2 linked regions of the Homo sapiens genome follow. The protein of the gene in region 2 binds, or shares a complex with, the protein of the main gene of each other region. Each region holds a gene or a part of one and is shown on either strand. Other genes may lie near its edges.

Region 1 (7,410 bases), on a different chromosome or scaffold from region 2:
ACCACTGTGCTAGGTGTGTATCCTTGTAGTCCGTGGACAGCAGCCTGGACATCACTGGCTGCCACCGACCTAATAATGAATCAGTCTTCATTTTAACATGTTTGTAGGTGATTTGTATGTACATTAACTTTCGAGAAGGCCGGGCGCGGTGGCTCACGCCTGCAATCCCAGCACTTTGGGAGGCTGAGGCGGGCGGATCACGAGGTCAAGAGATCGAGACCATCCTGGCCAACATGGTGAACCCCGTCTCTACTAAAAATACAAAAATTAGCTGGGCGTGGTGGCACGCCCTGTAGTCCCAGCTACTCAGGAGGCTGAGACAGGAGAATTGCTTGAACCGGGGAGGCGGAGGCTGCAGTGAGCCAAGATCACACCACTGCACTCCAGCCTGGCGACAGAGTAAGACTCCGTCTCAAAAAAAAAAAAAAACAAAAACAAAAAACAAAGTTCGAGAAGCACTCATGTGCTGTATCTCATTTATTGTTAACAGTTTTATGGATTAACTAATTGCAGTTTGTGAAGGGTATTATGAAATAAAGGCATTTTGTTAGAGGATAAACTAAGTAGAGACTCATTTTGGTGGTAAGATCTTTTTATGGAAATAGTCTATTACTATATTTGATTGTCAGCTACTGTATTTTGAATTTTCAGAAATTACGTCTAACCAATTAATCAGAATTGATTAAGTTTTGAGGATTCACTCAACTAAACTCATAAAAGACTGATGTGCAAACCTGAATGATTTATTAATTTAAATAAGGGTATATACATTGACTTGAAGGCTGATTTTGCCAATATACTAATATAATAATTTTGGCAATATACTAATATAATAATATACTGTTTTATGGGTACTAAGCTTCGGGTAGTGTGAATTTGTATTTCAGAAGTCATTTGATGACCGTGGAATCACACAAAAGAAAGGATAATTTTGAAGGATGTGTTCAGTACCCTCTAAGTTCCAAAAGATCTGGGACCATTTCTGATCTGTTAATACTGAGTGTTGTGCAGAGTGCTTGGAACGTGGTAGGTAATCAATAAATATTTGTTGAATTCAGAACATTTGAATTAATCAAAGACAGCTTATGAGATTTTAACCAAAGCATTCCTAGCTATTTTCCCCAAACTTATTCTATACCTAAAAGTACACAAAACTCGTTTTAGGTCTCTTTTCCCCTCTGCTTTACCGGTAAGATACATTCTTCTATTCCATCTGGCTCAACAAAACGTTTTATTTCACAGTGCCACGGTATTCACTAGCATGTCTTTAAAAAACAACTACAAAAAACCTCATTGTAGAAATACACATATGTTTTAAATAGTTCATCCTTAATATTGAGATTTCTAAAAGTTCTAAAGGGGGAATAAGTTTCAGGGTACCTATCCTATCCACTCTTCTTCAATATTTAGAGATTAACTTTGATAGAAGTATTGAGAATATTGATAAGAAAAATTACCTAAATTAGAAGGGGCTATTGTGCTCATAAAATTTTTTTCTAAGATTATGTACGTTGAAGTTGTTATACTTATTTGTAGCATTTTTTGCTTTCATACAGTATAATTTATTTTTTCATAGATTAAAAATTATACAGAATTATATTAGCTAAAAGTTTAACCTTTAGAACCAAATTATTTTTAAAACCACTTTTTTAACTGAAAGAAGAATGTTTGAAACGGGATGAGAAAAAATATTTTTGAAGGTTTATTATTTTTCCAAAGTTTCCTCAGCCAGAACATTTTTTGTTTTGTTCTTTCTTTTCCTTCTGTTTTGTCTGTTTAAATGGAGAGTCAATGCAATTGTTGATTCTTTGGCTCCTTAAATCTTATTGTTTCTGTCTCTTAGAGAATTTTATATAGGACTGGAAGGATCTTCTGTTTGTAATTAGACTCACGTCTAGGAAACAAACTGCTTAGTTATAAAATTTGAACTTTTGGCAGCCAGTGAGCTTTGGAAAGTAAGAACTTTTTAGTAAGCTGCAGATATTAAAAGCTCACTCTAGGATTTACTATTTTTGTTTCTATTAAAATATTCTTTGTTACTTTGCGTGCTTTGATAACATTGCTTGATAAAGTGCCTCTAATTCAATTATCACCTCCTAAATGGAAGAGGTTTTACAAGGTTTGTTGTTTTGTTTCTGATTTCCTTCATTGTGCCACTCTTTTGAAAACCCAACATTTGGAAATATAAAGTAAAAAACAGAAATTTCAGGTGCCTATTACTTTATAAAAAGGGTTCCCTTAAATAACGTCTTTGTTTTTTTTTTCTTCTTTTATTTTGAGACAGGGTCTTGCTCTGCTGCCCAGGCTGGAATGTGGTGGTGCAACCTCTGTTGCCTAAGCTGGAATGTAGTGGTGCCATCACGGCTCACTACAGCCTCGACCTCCTGGGCTCAAGCGATTCCCCCGACCTCAGCCTCCCAAGTAGCTGGGACTACAGGCGCAAGCCACCATGCCCGACTAATTTTTTTAATTTGTAGAGACAGGGTTTCACTGTGTTGGCTACGCTGGTCTCAAACTCTTTATTTTTTTTATTTTTATTTTTTTTTTGAGATGGAGTCTCGCTCTGTCGCCCAGGCTGGAGTGCAGTGGCACGATCTTGGCTCACTGCAAGCTCTGCCTCCCAGGTTCACACCATTCTCCTGCCTCAGCCTCCCGAGTAGCTGGGACTACAGGTGCCTGCCACCACGCCCGGCTAATTTTTTGTATTTTTAGTAGTGATGGGGTTTCACCGTATTAGCCAGGATGGTCTCGATCTCCTGACCTTGTGATCCGCCCACCTCGGCCTCCCAAAGTGCTGGGATTACAGGCGTGAGCCACCACGCCTGGCTCGAACTCTTGAGCTCAAGTGATCTGCCTGCCTTGGCCTCCCAAAGTGCTGAGATTACAGGCATGAGCCACCCTGCCTGGCCTCATAGTAACTGTCGATAGTATAGAGTGTAGCCTGTGGGACAGTACAAAGGTTGAGCTTTGAAGTAAGACTTGAATTTGAATTCCGTCTTCCCCAAGCTCTAATTATCTGATCTTAGCCGAGATGCTAAACATAAGTAGCTTCAAGTTCCTCAGATGTAAAGTGGGGATAATTATACCCCCAATATTTCATAATGTTGTAATGGGGACAATGTTTTCTTATTCATTTTTACATCCCCAGCACCTGCCACAGTGCCTGGCATCAAAGGAATGCTGAGGCCGGCTCACGCCTGTAATCCTAGCACTTTGAGAGGCCCAGGCAGGTGGATCACTTGAGGTCAGGAGTTCAAAACCAGCCTGGCCAACATGGTGAAACCCTGTCTCTACTAAAAATACAAAAAATTAGCTGAGTGTGGTGGCGCGTGCCTGTAATCCCAACTACTCAGGAGGCTGAGGCAGGAGAATCGCTTGAACCCAGGAGGTGGAGGTTGCAGTGAGCTGAGATCACACTACTGCACTCCAGCCTGAGTAACAGGGTGAGACTCTGTCTCAAAATAAATAAATAAATAAATAAAAAATACAATAAAGGAATGCTGAATAAATGGGAAAGAAAGTGTTTGGTACGTATCTAGTGAATTAGTAAGTATTAGTATCTGCTTAACATAAAACATAAGAGTTGGCCAGGCGTGGTGGCTCCTGCTTGTAATTCCAGCACTTTGGGAGGCCGAGGTGGGGAGATCACCTGAGGTCAGGAGTTCGAGACCAGCCTGACCAACATGGTGAAACGCTCTCTCTACGAAAAATACAAAAATTAGTTGGGTGTGGTGGTGGTTGCCTGTTATCCCAGCTACTCTAGAGGTTGAGGCAGGAGAATTGCTTGAACCTGGGGGATGGAGGTTGCAGTGAGCCTAGATCGCAGCATTGCACTCCAGCCCAGGCAACAGAGCAAGACTCCATCTCAAAACAAAAAAACAAATAAAACATAAGAGTTAAGAAAACTTTTAAGTCTTACCAATTGGGATCATGCATAATGCATTCCTGCATATTTCTGGGGTAATTTAATAAGTTTTCTTCCTGTTTTAGACCAATATAAATATCCGGTTAAGACTAAGCAAACAAGAAGACTAGCTTTTTGAAGCCTAATTTGTTTCCTCTTATTCAGAATAAAAAAAAATTTGAAGAAAAACTGGACTGAAATTTGTTTTTGCTCTGATATATAAAATTTACAGAAATGTCTCAAGAATAGTCATAATTTTAAAGATCAAATGGACAGTGAGATACTACCTCACGCCTGTTAGGAAGGCTATTATCACCAGAAGTCCCCCAAATAATAAGTATTGGTGAGGATGTGGAGAAACTGGAACCCTCGTGGACTGTTGGTGGCAATGAGAAATGGTGCAGCTACTATGGAAAGTGGTATGGCGGTTCCTCAGAAAGTTAAAAGTTGAGTTACCATGTGACCCAGCAGTTCCACGTGTGGGTATATATCCACAGTAATTGAAAGCAAGGCCTCGAAGAGATATTTGCACAACCATGTTCATAGCACATTGTTCACAGTAGGTAAAAGGTGGAAGCAAGCCAAGTGTCCATCAGCGGATGAATGAACAAACCAAATGTGGTATATACGTGTAGTGAAATATTATTCAGCCTTCAAAGGAGGAAATTCTGACACATGCTACCGCTTGAATGAACCTGAAAGACATCATGCTAAGTGAAATAAGCCAGTCAAAAAGACAAATACTCTGTGATTCCACTTACATGAGGTACCTAGAGAAGTCAAATTCATGGAGACAGAAAGTAGATTGCTGGTTGCCAGGGGCTGTGGGGAGAGGAGAATGGGAAGTTGTTTAAGGAGTGTAGAGTTCCAGTTCTGCAAGATGAAGGAAGTTCTGGAGATTGGTTGCCCAGCAGTGTGAAGGTACTTAACACTATTGAACTATATGGTTAAAAGTGGTTAATACAGTAAGTTTTACATTATGTGTATTTTACCACATTTTAGTAAATAGAAAATGTTGAGTACATTCAGAATGAAAGAAATGGTACATTGTTTTTCAAAGGCAATTTGGAAATTTGTATTGAAGAATAAATGATGATGGCTAGGCAAGGTGGCTCACATCTGTAAACTCAGCACTTTGGGAGGCTGAGGTAGGAGGATTACTTGAGACCAGGAGTTCGAGACCAGCCTGGGCAACATGCTGAGACCTCATCTTTGCTAAAAATAAAATAAATAATAATAAAGAAGTCGGGGGTTCCCTCTGTTGGCTTTGGAGCCCCCATCCCTCTGTCTCTGTACAGGGAAGCTTCTTCCTTCTCCTTTCTTGCTCCTTCTTGCCTGTTAAACTCTCTATTTCTTAAAACCAAAAAAATAAAAAATAATAATAAAAAGTGATGTCCACATGCTTTGAGCTTTAATATACTTCTGGATATTTATCCTTAGAAATATATTCTGAAAAGAATAAAAAATGCTCTAAGCACAAAAATGATCAACATAAAGTTATCTATAAATTTGAAAATATAGATAACATTTGCATGTCCAACTAATGGGGCATACAAAATAAATGGTTGTATGTCCACTTGTTGGGTTGCAGCCAAATATATAAAAATTATATGTGTAAATGGGTAAGGACACGTGGGGGAGCCCAGGAGATGATGATGATAGCAGGGTGATTAGACTTTTAGGGGCACTTATTTTTAAAATCTCATTTTAATGTCAGTTCTACAAAACTTTAAAAACCCACTTAAATATGCTAATTAAAAATTATTCTTACCCACTTGTGAAAGTGTGTTTACCAGATCCTGTACTTGACAATCCTTTGTAAACCTCTAGTATGGATTTTATAGATATTAAGACTGTAAAAAAGTAATTTTAGTTTTTATTTTTATTTTTTAAGAGATGAGATCTAGGCCGGGCGCAGTGGCTCACGCCTGTAATCTCAGCACTTTGGGAGGCTGAGGCTGGCGGATCGCCTGAGGTTGGAAATTCAAGACCAGCCTGGCCAACACGGGAAAACCCCGTCTCTATTAAAAATACAAAATTAGCTGGGCATGGTGGCGCATGCCTGTTATCCCAGCTACTCGGGAGGCTGAGGTAGGAGAATCACTTGAACCCGGGAGGCGGAGGTTGTGATGAGCTGAGAGCACCATTTTACTCCAGCCTAGGCAACAAGAGCGGAACTCCGTCTCAAAAAAAAAAAAAAAAGAGACGAGGTCTCACTCTGTCACCCTGGCTGGGGTGCAGTGGCTTGATCACAGCTCACTGTAGCCTCTACTTTCTGGGCTCAAGTGATCTTCCCACTTTGGCCTCCCAAGTAGCTGGGACTGCAGGGGCGTGCCACTGTGCCCAACTAACATTTTTATTTTTGGTAGAGATAAGATCTTGCTCTGTTGCCCAGGCTAGTCTCAAACTCCTGGCCTCAGGCAATCCTACCACCTTGGCCTCCCAAAGTGCTGGGATTACAGGCTTGAGCCACCACCTCTGGCCCATAATTTTATTTTTTTAAATGCACTAGTAAAATTGGGAGTTTAAAAACCTGGACTAGAATTTGGACATTGCCTTTTTTTTTATTCTTTTTAAGATTTTGCTTGTTAGTGTCAATTTATCTGACCTTTGGTTTGAAGAATTTCCATCTAAAGAGGAAGATAGGCAGCTAAGGAGACAATGATACAATAATGTGATAAGTGCTATGATAGTTGCACATGTATGATGATTGGGTGCCTGGGGAGAGTCACCTGATTCACACACACCCTCTTTAAATTATAGCCCCTTTTTATTCCCTCTCATAGCTATTTGTTTTTTTCCTCTTTCATACTATATTTTGTAATTGCCTGTAGATGTGTTGTTTGATGTCTGCTTCTCCTAGACTCTTAACTTCCAAAAGGATAGGGGTCATGCTCATGCATATACCCAGAGCATGGCATATAGCTCAGTATTTGCTGAATGTTGAATCAAAGTTGGCTTTCTGAAGGAGATAACCGAAGCTTATCTTTTTTTTTTTTTTTTTTTTTTTTTTTTTTGAGACGTAGTCTTGCTCTTGTCGCCCAGGTTGGAATGCAGTGGCGTGATCTCGGCTCACTGCAACCTCTGCCTCCTGGGTTCAAGCGATTCTTATGTCTCAGCCTCCCAAGTAGCTGGGATTACAGACATGTGCCACCATGCTGGGCTCATTTTTTTATATTTTTAGTAGACGGGGTTTCACCATACTGGCCAGTCTGGTCTCGAACTCCTGACCTCAAATGATCCGCCTGCCTTGGCCTCCCAAAGTACTAGGATTACAGGTGTGAGCCACTGCGCCTGGCCTAATTTTTGTATTTTTAGTAGAGACGGGGTTTCACCATGTTGGCCAGGCTGGTCTGGAACTCCTGACCTCATGTGATCCGCCCACCTTGGCCTCCCAAAGTGTTGGTATTACAGGTGTGAGCCACGACTCCCAGCCCCAGGCTTATCTTGAAGGTGTAATAGCACAGAGAACAAGTAGGGGATGGATATTTCAGGAAGAGAAGAAA
Region 2 (7,410 bases):
TCAAGTGTCACTTCCTTCTCCTGGGCAACATAGCAAGACCCTATATCTACAAAAATAAAAATACAATAATTAGCTGGGAATGGTGGCACGTGCCTGTAGTATCAGCTACTCGGGAGCATGAGGCAGGAGGACTGTTTGAGCCCAGGAAGTCGAGGTTGCAGTGAGCCATGATCGTGCCACTGCACTCCCTGGATAATGGGAAGGCCAAGACACCATTGTCCACTGCAGTATGGCAGCTAGAGCTCAATGAGTTTAAAAGTGAGCTCATTGTCCTCCCCTCCAAATGTCCTCTCCTCTCCCAATTTCTGCCATAGTTTCTTAAGGGCCCCATCTTTCTCTACCAGTCACCCAAACTCAAAACTCTTTCACTCAAGTCCTAATGATTCTTTCTTCAAAACATTTCTCACATCTACAGACAATATGAAAATAAAAGTGGCACAGGTAACCTGTAAGTAGTAACTTACAGCTTTCATTGGTGCTTACTTCTTAGGAGAGGGGGAAAGACAGACAATAAACAAATAAACAGGTGCATATAGGGATGTCAGATGGTGATACTTAACCTGGAGAACGAACAGGATAAGGGGGAAGAGATGAAGAAGAATCAGGGTGAGGGATGGGGATGTTATGGGGGGTGTCCATCTGAGACATGGTGTTGGGGGGTGAGCAGACATCCTGGGCAGTAGGTGTTCTTTTTTTTTTTTTTTTCTTTTTTTCTTTTTTAAGAGATGGGGACTTGCTATGTTGCCTGGGCTGGTCTTGAACTCCTGGGCTCAAGCGATCCTCCCACTTCAACCTCCCAAAGTGCTAGGATTACAGGCGTGAGCCCCTGTGCTTGGCCAAGGCAGTAGGTGTTCGTTCAGCAATTGCATCAGAAATCATTAAAGTCCTGGACTTGGGATTTTCGTTTTCCTGGGTTAGTGCTATTAGTTATTTATTGAACATTTTTTACAGCGTGCAGGCTTCTCATTCATCCTGAGGACTCTTGTTTTACAGCTGAGGAAGCCCAAGCTCTGGAGGATTAAATGACCAGCCCAGAGACCCCCAGCAAGGATTTGAACCCAAGTGGGGCTGTGCAAAGCTAGTACTTTTAGCCATTGTACTATGAAAGCAATATAAATTACTGATCTCTGATTGCCCTATAGATTTTTCTGAAACAGTTATTTATTTGTCTATCTATCTTTTGAAACAGAGTCTCATTCTGTTGCCCAGGCCGGAGTACAGTGATGCAAACTTGGCTTACTGCAACCTCCGCCTCCTAGGTTCAAGAGATTCTCATGCCTCAGCCTCCTGAGTAACTGGGGTTAACCTGAGTAACAGGTGCGTACCACCATGCCTGGCATTCTCTCGTATTTTTATTAGAGACGGGGTTTCGCCATGTTGGCCAGGCTTGTCTTGAACTCCTGACCTCAGATGATCCACCTCCCTCGGCCTCCCACAGTGCTGTGATTACAGGTGTGAGCTACCATGCCTGGCCTGAAATAGTCTTTTAACTAAACTTTTTACTTTGTAATAATTGTAGATTTATAGAAAAGTTGCAAAGATAGTACAGAGAGTTCCCGTATGCCCTCCATTCTGCTCCCCCTAATGTTAACATCTTAGATAACCTTGATGTGTTTGTCAAAACCACAAAATTAGGCCCGGCACGGTGGCTCCTGTCTGTATTCCCAGCACTGGGAGGCTAAGGTGGGAGGATTGCTTGAGCCTAGGAGTTCAAGATCAGTCTGGGCAACATAGTGGAGCTCATCTCTATAAAAAGTTAAAAAATTAGCTAGGCATCGAGCACCTATAGTCCTAGCTACTTGAGAGGCTGAGACAGGAGGATCACTTGAGCCCAGTAGGTCGAGGCTGGAGTGAGCCATGGTCACACTATTGCACTCCAGCCAGGGTAACAGAGCGCCTACAAAATTAATGTTGGTACAATGCTATTAACTAAACTTTAGACTAGATTTGGATTTGGATTTGGATTTCTCCAGTTCCACTAATGTCCTTTTTCCACTCCAGAACCCAATCCAGAATACAACATTACATTTAGTGAAACAGTTTTTTAAATTGTATTTCAAAGTTATATTTCACCCACCAATTTTTAAAATCAGTACTTAAAAATGGCCAGGCGTGGTGGCTCAGGCCTGTAATCCCAGCACTTTGGGAGGCAAAGGCAGGTGGATTGAGAACAGCCTGGCAAACATGGCAAAACCCTGTCTCTACTAAAAATACAAAGATTAGCCAGGCGTGGTGGTGTGCACCTGTAGTCCCAGCTGCTCAGGAGGCTGAGGCAGGAGAATCACTTGAACCCAGGAGGCAGAGGTTGCAGTGAGCCGAGATCATGGCACTGCACTGCAGCCTGGGCGACAGAGCAAGACTCTGTCTCAAAACAAATAAACAAACAAACCAAAAAACTTTAAAATCAGTGAAAATGTGCCATTCCTAGTCCTGTTAGTCTTACACTGCATTCTGCCCTGTCCCTGTCCTGCTCAGACATAGGCTGAGGCCTGTGGTTCCGTCGCCCAGGCTGCTTGTCAGTTGGTTTCCTGCTGGTTTTGGCCAAGGGCAGTAGAAAGAAACCAGGGTATTTCTCCTCCCCCACCGCCACCCTTCTTTAATCTGCATTTCCGGCAATGTCTCTAGCTCCTCTGGGAACTGATGGCTGTGGTTCAAACTTCCCCTGGGTGACCCTGGGCCCCAGGCTCACCATCTCTTCATGTGGTGGCTTCCTGCCATTGACAATTGCGGGATGGCTTTGTCTTCCCCTGGTTGGCCTCTCAACTCTCCCATCACTGATGTAACCAGTCTCTGGTTTTAAATCCTTAGAATGCTGTCTGTATGCCTGGCTGGTCCCCGCCTGACACATGTGCCTGAGATGCCTCCACACTTGGTCTTCCTGCCCTTGTGGCCCTAACACCCTCACAAAGCTGAAAACTGCTTCCAGTGAAAGGTTCTGTGTAAAAGCGACAGAGGACCTAAGATGAACTCTTGATGTCAACAGTTGTGGTTTCTGCAGCCACACTAACCACACAGATGTCAGCACAGCTGCACTCACACCTACTTCTTCATTTTGCAGGATGGCCAGAGACAATAAAAGCACGAGACCCAAGTAGTCTACCGAAGTCTCCATCTCTGTGGACCTACAGAGGCACAGAGGGCTGCTCACAAGATGGCTTTAGACATTCTCGCCATGGCCCCTTTGTATCAGGCCCCTGCCATCAACAGAATAGGGCCAAAGACAGACCCATCTAAAAGGCCAGCTGATCCACTAAAACCCTTGGTTCTCTCTAGGACCAAACTCACCACCATTGAGGCCAAAAGGATCATGTCCATCCTGGATGAGGCGATCTACAAGGTGGAGCTGGTGACCTTGCTGTCGTATGTGGCATCCAACAGAGAGGATATGGAGGGGATGCTGGGGGAGGACGTCATGAGGGCAGTGAGAGAGCATGAGGATCTCTGCCAGGTCCTCCTTGAAAACGTCAGGTGCCTGAAAGAGAAAGAAAGGCAATTGCAGGAGCAGAAAGAGGCTGAGGAGGAAGGGTGGCTCAGAGACCGCCTCCTTTCCATAGAGCTGCAGAAATCCAGCCTCTCACCACTTATGCAGCAGATCAAAGACTCCACCAAGAACGTCCTTAGACTCTTGCTCAGCAACCCCCAGGCTGCTAGGCTCCTGCAGATGCAGACACAGGGTAGAAGTGCAGAAGCCCAGAATTTTATTGACAGCCTGATAGAGCTCCGTGGTTTCCTGTTTGAAAAACTACTCACTAGTCCCATGGAAGCGAGGGATAAGGCCCAGTTCTTACAGGATATCAGTAGACAGAATAGTAATAACCAACAAATCATTGATACTCTTGAAAAGGAATTGGCGGAGAGAATGAAGAACAGGAATGCAGAGGTATTGTTTCATAGTATTGCTGAAATTACTGAAGAAGCCACACAAATCTTTTGTTGGTTGGGTTTTTCCTCAATGATTGATTTTTTTTTTAAGATGGAGTCTCGCTCTGTTGTCCAGACTAGAGTGCAGTGGTGTAATCTCGACTCACTGCAACCTCTGCCTCCCAGGTTCAAGCGATTCTCCCACCACAGCCTCCCAAGTAGTTGGGATTACAGGCGTATGCCACCACGCCCGGCTAATTTTTGTATTTTTAGTAGAGACAGGTTTTCGCCATGTTGGCCAGGCTGGTCTAGAACTCCTGACCTCAAGTGATCCTCCTGCTTTGGCCTCCCAAAGTGCTGGCCACTGCGCCTGGCCAATTGATTGACTGATTTTTTTGAGACAGGGTCTCACTCTGTTGCCCAGGCTAGAGTGCAGTGGCATGATCACAGCACACTGCAGCCTCCATCTCTCAGGCTTAAGCAATCCTCCCATCTCACCCTCCCAAGTAGCTGAGACTACAGGTGTGTGTCACCATGCCTGGCTAATTTTTTGATTGTTTGTAAAGATGGGCTCTTGCTACGTTGCCCAGGTTGGTCTCGAACTTCTGGGTTCAAGAGATCCTTCCGCCTTGGCCTCCCAAAGTGCTGGGGTTACAGGCATGAGCCACTATGCCCGGCCTCCCCAGTGATTTTTTTTTTTTTAAGATGGAGTCTTGCTGTGTCACCCAGGCTAAAGTGCAGTGGCAACATCTTGATTCACTGCAACCTCCGCCTCCTGTGTTGGGAATGGGTGCTCGGTGTCGCCAAAATCAACACTGAGACAAAGGATCTCTCAGCAAGGCTAGTTTACTCTCTGCAGAAAGGGTGCTGCTTGCTAGCAGTCTTGCCACAAGAGCACACATGAACAAAAGAGACGGGGTCATTTATAACCTGACGCATCCACCCTACTGCTGTGTCCAGTTTCCATTGGCTGGAACAGGACCTCACATTCTGTACTCAACCCGATTGGCTAGCAATTTAGAACTTCCCAAAAGAGGCAAAGGCAGAGGGAAACAAAGGAAGAGAGCAAGTAACTCCTGGAATGCTGAGAGAGGCAAAAACACCTCCAAATAAGGAAGAGGAATAGGCTATGACCTAATGCTTGCTTGGACCGGTTCAGGTATGCCAAGGCAAATATCTAAGCTAAAATGTGGGAGCTAAGAACAGAGTATATTGATTTCTTTTTTTTTTTTTTTTTTGAGGCGGAGTCTTGCTCTGTCACCCAGGCTGGAGTGCAGTGGTGTGATATCAGCTCACTGCAAGCTCCGCCTCCAGGGTCACACCATTCTCCTGCCTCAGCCTCCCGAGTAGCTGGGACTACAGGTGCCCACCACCATACCCAGCTAATTTTTTTTTTGTATTTTTAGTAGAGATGGGGTTTCACCGTGTTAGCCAGGATAGTCTCGATCTCCTGACCTCGTGATCCGCCCACCTCTGCCCCCCAAAGTGCTGGGATTACAGGCGTGAGTCACCACGCCCGGCCTATTGATTTCTTTTTTTTTTTTTTTTTTTTTTGAGACGGAGTCTCGCTCTGTCGCCCAGGCCGGAAGCCGGACTGCGGACTGCAGTGGCGCAATCTCGGCTCACTGCAAGCTCCGCTTCCCGGGTTCACGCCATTCTCCTGCCTCAGCCTCCCGAGTAGCTGGGACTACAGGCGCCCGCCACCGCGCCCGGCTAATTTTTTGTATTTTTAGTAGAGACGGGGTTTCACCTTGTTAGCCAGGATGGTCTCGATCTCCTGACCTCATGATCCACCCGCCTCGGCCTCCCAAAGTGCTGGGATTACTGGCATGAGCCACCGCGCCCGGCCTGATTTCTTTATTACAGCTAGCAGAATTGAAGAATATTAACACAGGTCTTCGAGTAAATTTTGGTTCTAAGAGAGGTTACTACCTATTCTGAATTAGACTGGGAGGAAAGTCCCTTTGAAGAGGAACCTCTATTTCATTTTCTACATCCTGGGTTCAAGCAATTCTTCTGGCTCAGCCTCCCGAGTCTCTGGGACTACAGGTGCCCGCCACAATGCCCAGCTAATTTTTTTATTTTTAGTAGAGATGGGGTTTCACCGTGTTGGCCAGGCTGGTCTTGAACTCCTGACCCTAAGTGATCTGCCCGCCTTGGCCTCCCAAAGTGCTGGGATTATAGGCGTGAGCCACTGCGCCTGGCCTAAGTAGCTTTTTTTTTTTAAAAAAAAATTCATTTACTCCACAAATTATTGTAAGTACTTACTAGGTGCCAGGTCTTATAAATAAGCCCATGTGGTTCCAGCCTCATGGAGTTCACAGTAAGGAAGGTAGGAATTAAAGAATTCATTTAATTACAGTTTTGAGAAGTACAATGTACTTCTCAAAGGGAGTGTTACAGGAGAACTTAACACCAAAAGGTCAGGGACATTGAAGCCAAGATATGAAGAATGCGAGGGCGTGAACCAGGCAAGTGCAGTGAGGAAGAACCTTCCAAGCTAGGGATCAGCGAACTATTTTTTTTTTTTTGAGACAGTCTTACTCTATGCCCAAGCTGGAGTATAATGGCATGATCTCAGCTTACTGCAGCCTTCACCTCCCAGGTTCAAGTGATTCTTGTGCCTCAGCCTCCTGAGTAGCTGGGATTACAGGCATGTGCCACCACGCCTGGCTAATTTTTGTATCTTTTAGTAGAGACAGAGTTTTGCCATTTTGGCCAGGCTGTTCTTGAATTCCTGGTCTCAAGTGATCCTCCCACCTCCCACCTCAGCCTCCCAAAGTGCTGGAATTACATGTGTGAGCCACCGCACCTGGCCCCAACTTTTTCTACAAAGGGCCAGATAGTAAAAACATTAGGCTTTGTGGGCCAGATGGTCTGTTGCAATTACTCAACTCAGCTTTGCTGTTATAGGGGAAAAGCAGCCACAAACAATATGTAAATGAATGGGCTGTGTTCCAACAAAACTTTACTTACAAATACAAGTGGCTGGCTGGATTCGGCCTGTGGGCCATAGTTTGCCAACCCCTGTTCCAGGTGGAGGGTAGAGTGCACCTCAGTAATGAGACAAGAATAAGCCTGGCTAGTTCAGAAACCCAGAGAATGCCAGTGAGCTAGAGGGAAGGGACAAAGATGGGCTGGGAAAGCAGGGGAAGGAGACAGATCACACAGGGCCTTTGAGGCCTAATCAAGGAATTTGGTTTCTAGAAGTTTTTAGTTTTAGAGACAAGATCTTGCTCTGTCACCCAGGCTTGAGTGCATTGGCACGTTCATAGCTCACTGCGGCCTTGACCTCCTGGGCGATTCTCCTGCCTTAGCCTTTTGAGTAGCTGAAACTACAGGCATGCGCCACCACTCTTGGCTAATTTTTTACATTTTTGTAGAGACAGGGTCTCGCTATGTTGCCCAGGCTGGTTTCGAACTCCTGGGCTCAAGCAATCTCCCTGCCTCAGCCTCCCAAGTAGCTGTGACTACAGGCACATGCCACCATGCCTGCCTAATTAATTTTTTTTCTTTTTTTAGAGATGGGGTGTCTGGCTGGAAGTAGTG

What was found. The genes of interacting proteins can lie anywhere in the genome.
Region 1: DRC10 (region 2) and DRC8 share a complex: the UniProt entries of both Homo sapiens proteins name them as parts of the nexin-dynein regulatory complex.

Annotation. Positions count from the first base shown.
Region 1 is NC_000001.11:244,972,402-244,979,811, forward strand, and holds part of DRC8 (dynein regulatory complex protein 8), read left to right. Parts: intron 1-107; exon of another isoform or gene 108-897; coding exon of another isoform or gene 898-1,026; intron 1,027-7,410. UniProt on the Homo sapiens protein: Component of the nexin-dynein regulatory complex (N-DRC), a key regulator of ciliary/flagellar motility which maintains the alignment and integrity of the distal axoneme and regulates microtubule sliding in motile axonemes.
Region 2 is NC_000012.12:113,203,908-113,211,317, reverse strand, and holds part of DRC10 (dynein regulatory complex protein 10), read left to right. Parts: intron 1-1,189; exon of another isoform or gene 1,190-1,317; intron 1,318-2,808; exon of another isoform or gene 2,809-3,058; 5' UTR 3,059-3,151; coding exon 3,152-3,880; intron 3,881-7,410. UniProt on the Homo sapiens protein: Component of the nexin-dynein regulatory complex (N-DRC), a key regulator of ciliary/flagellar motility which maintains the alignment and integrity of the distal axoneme and regulates microtubule sliding in motile axonemes.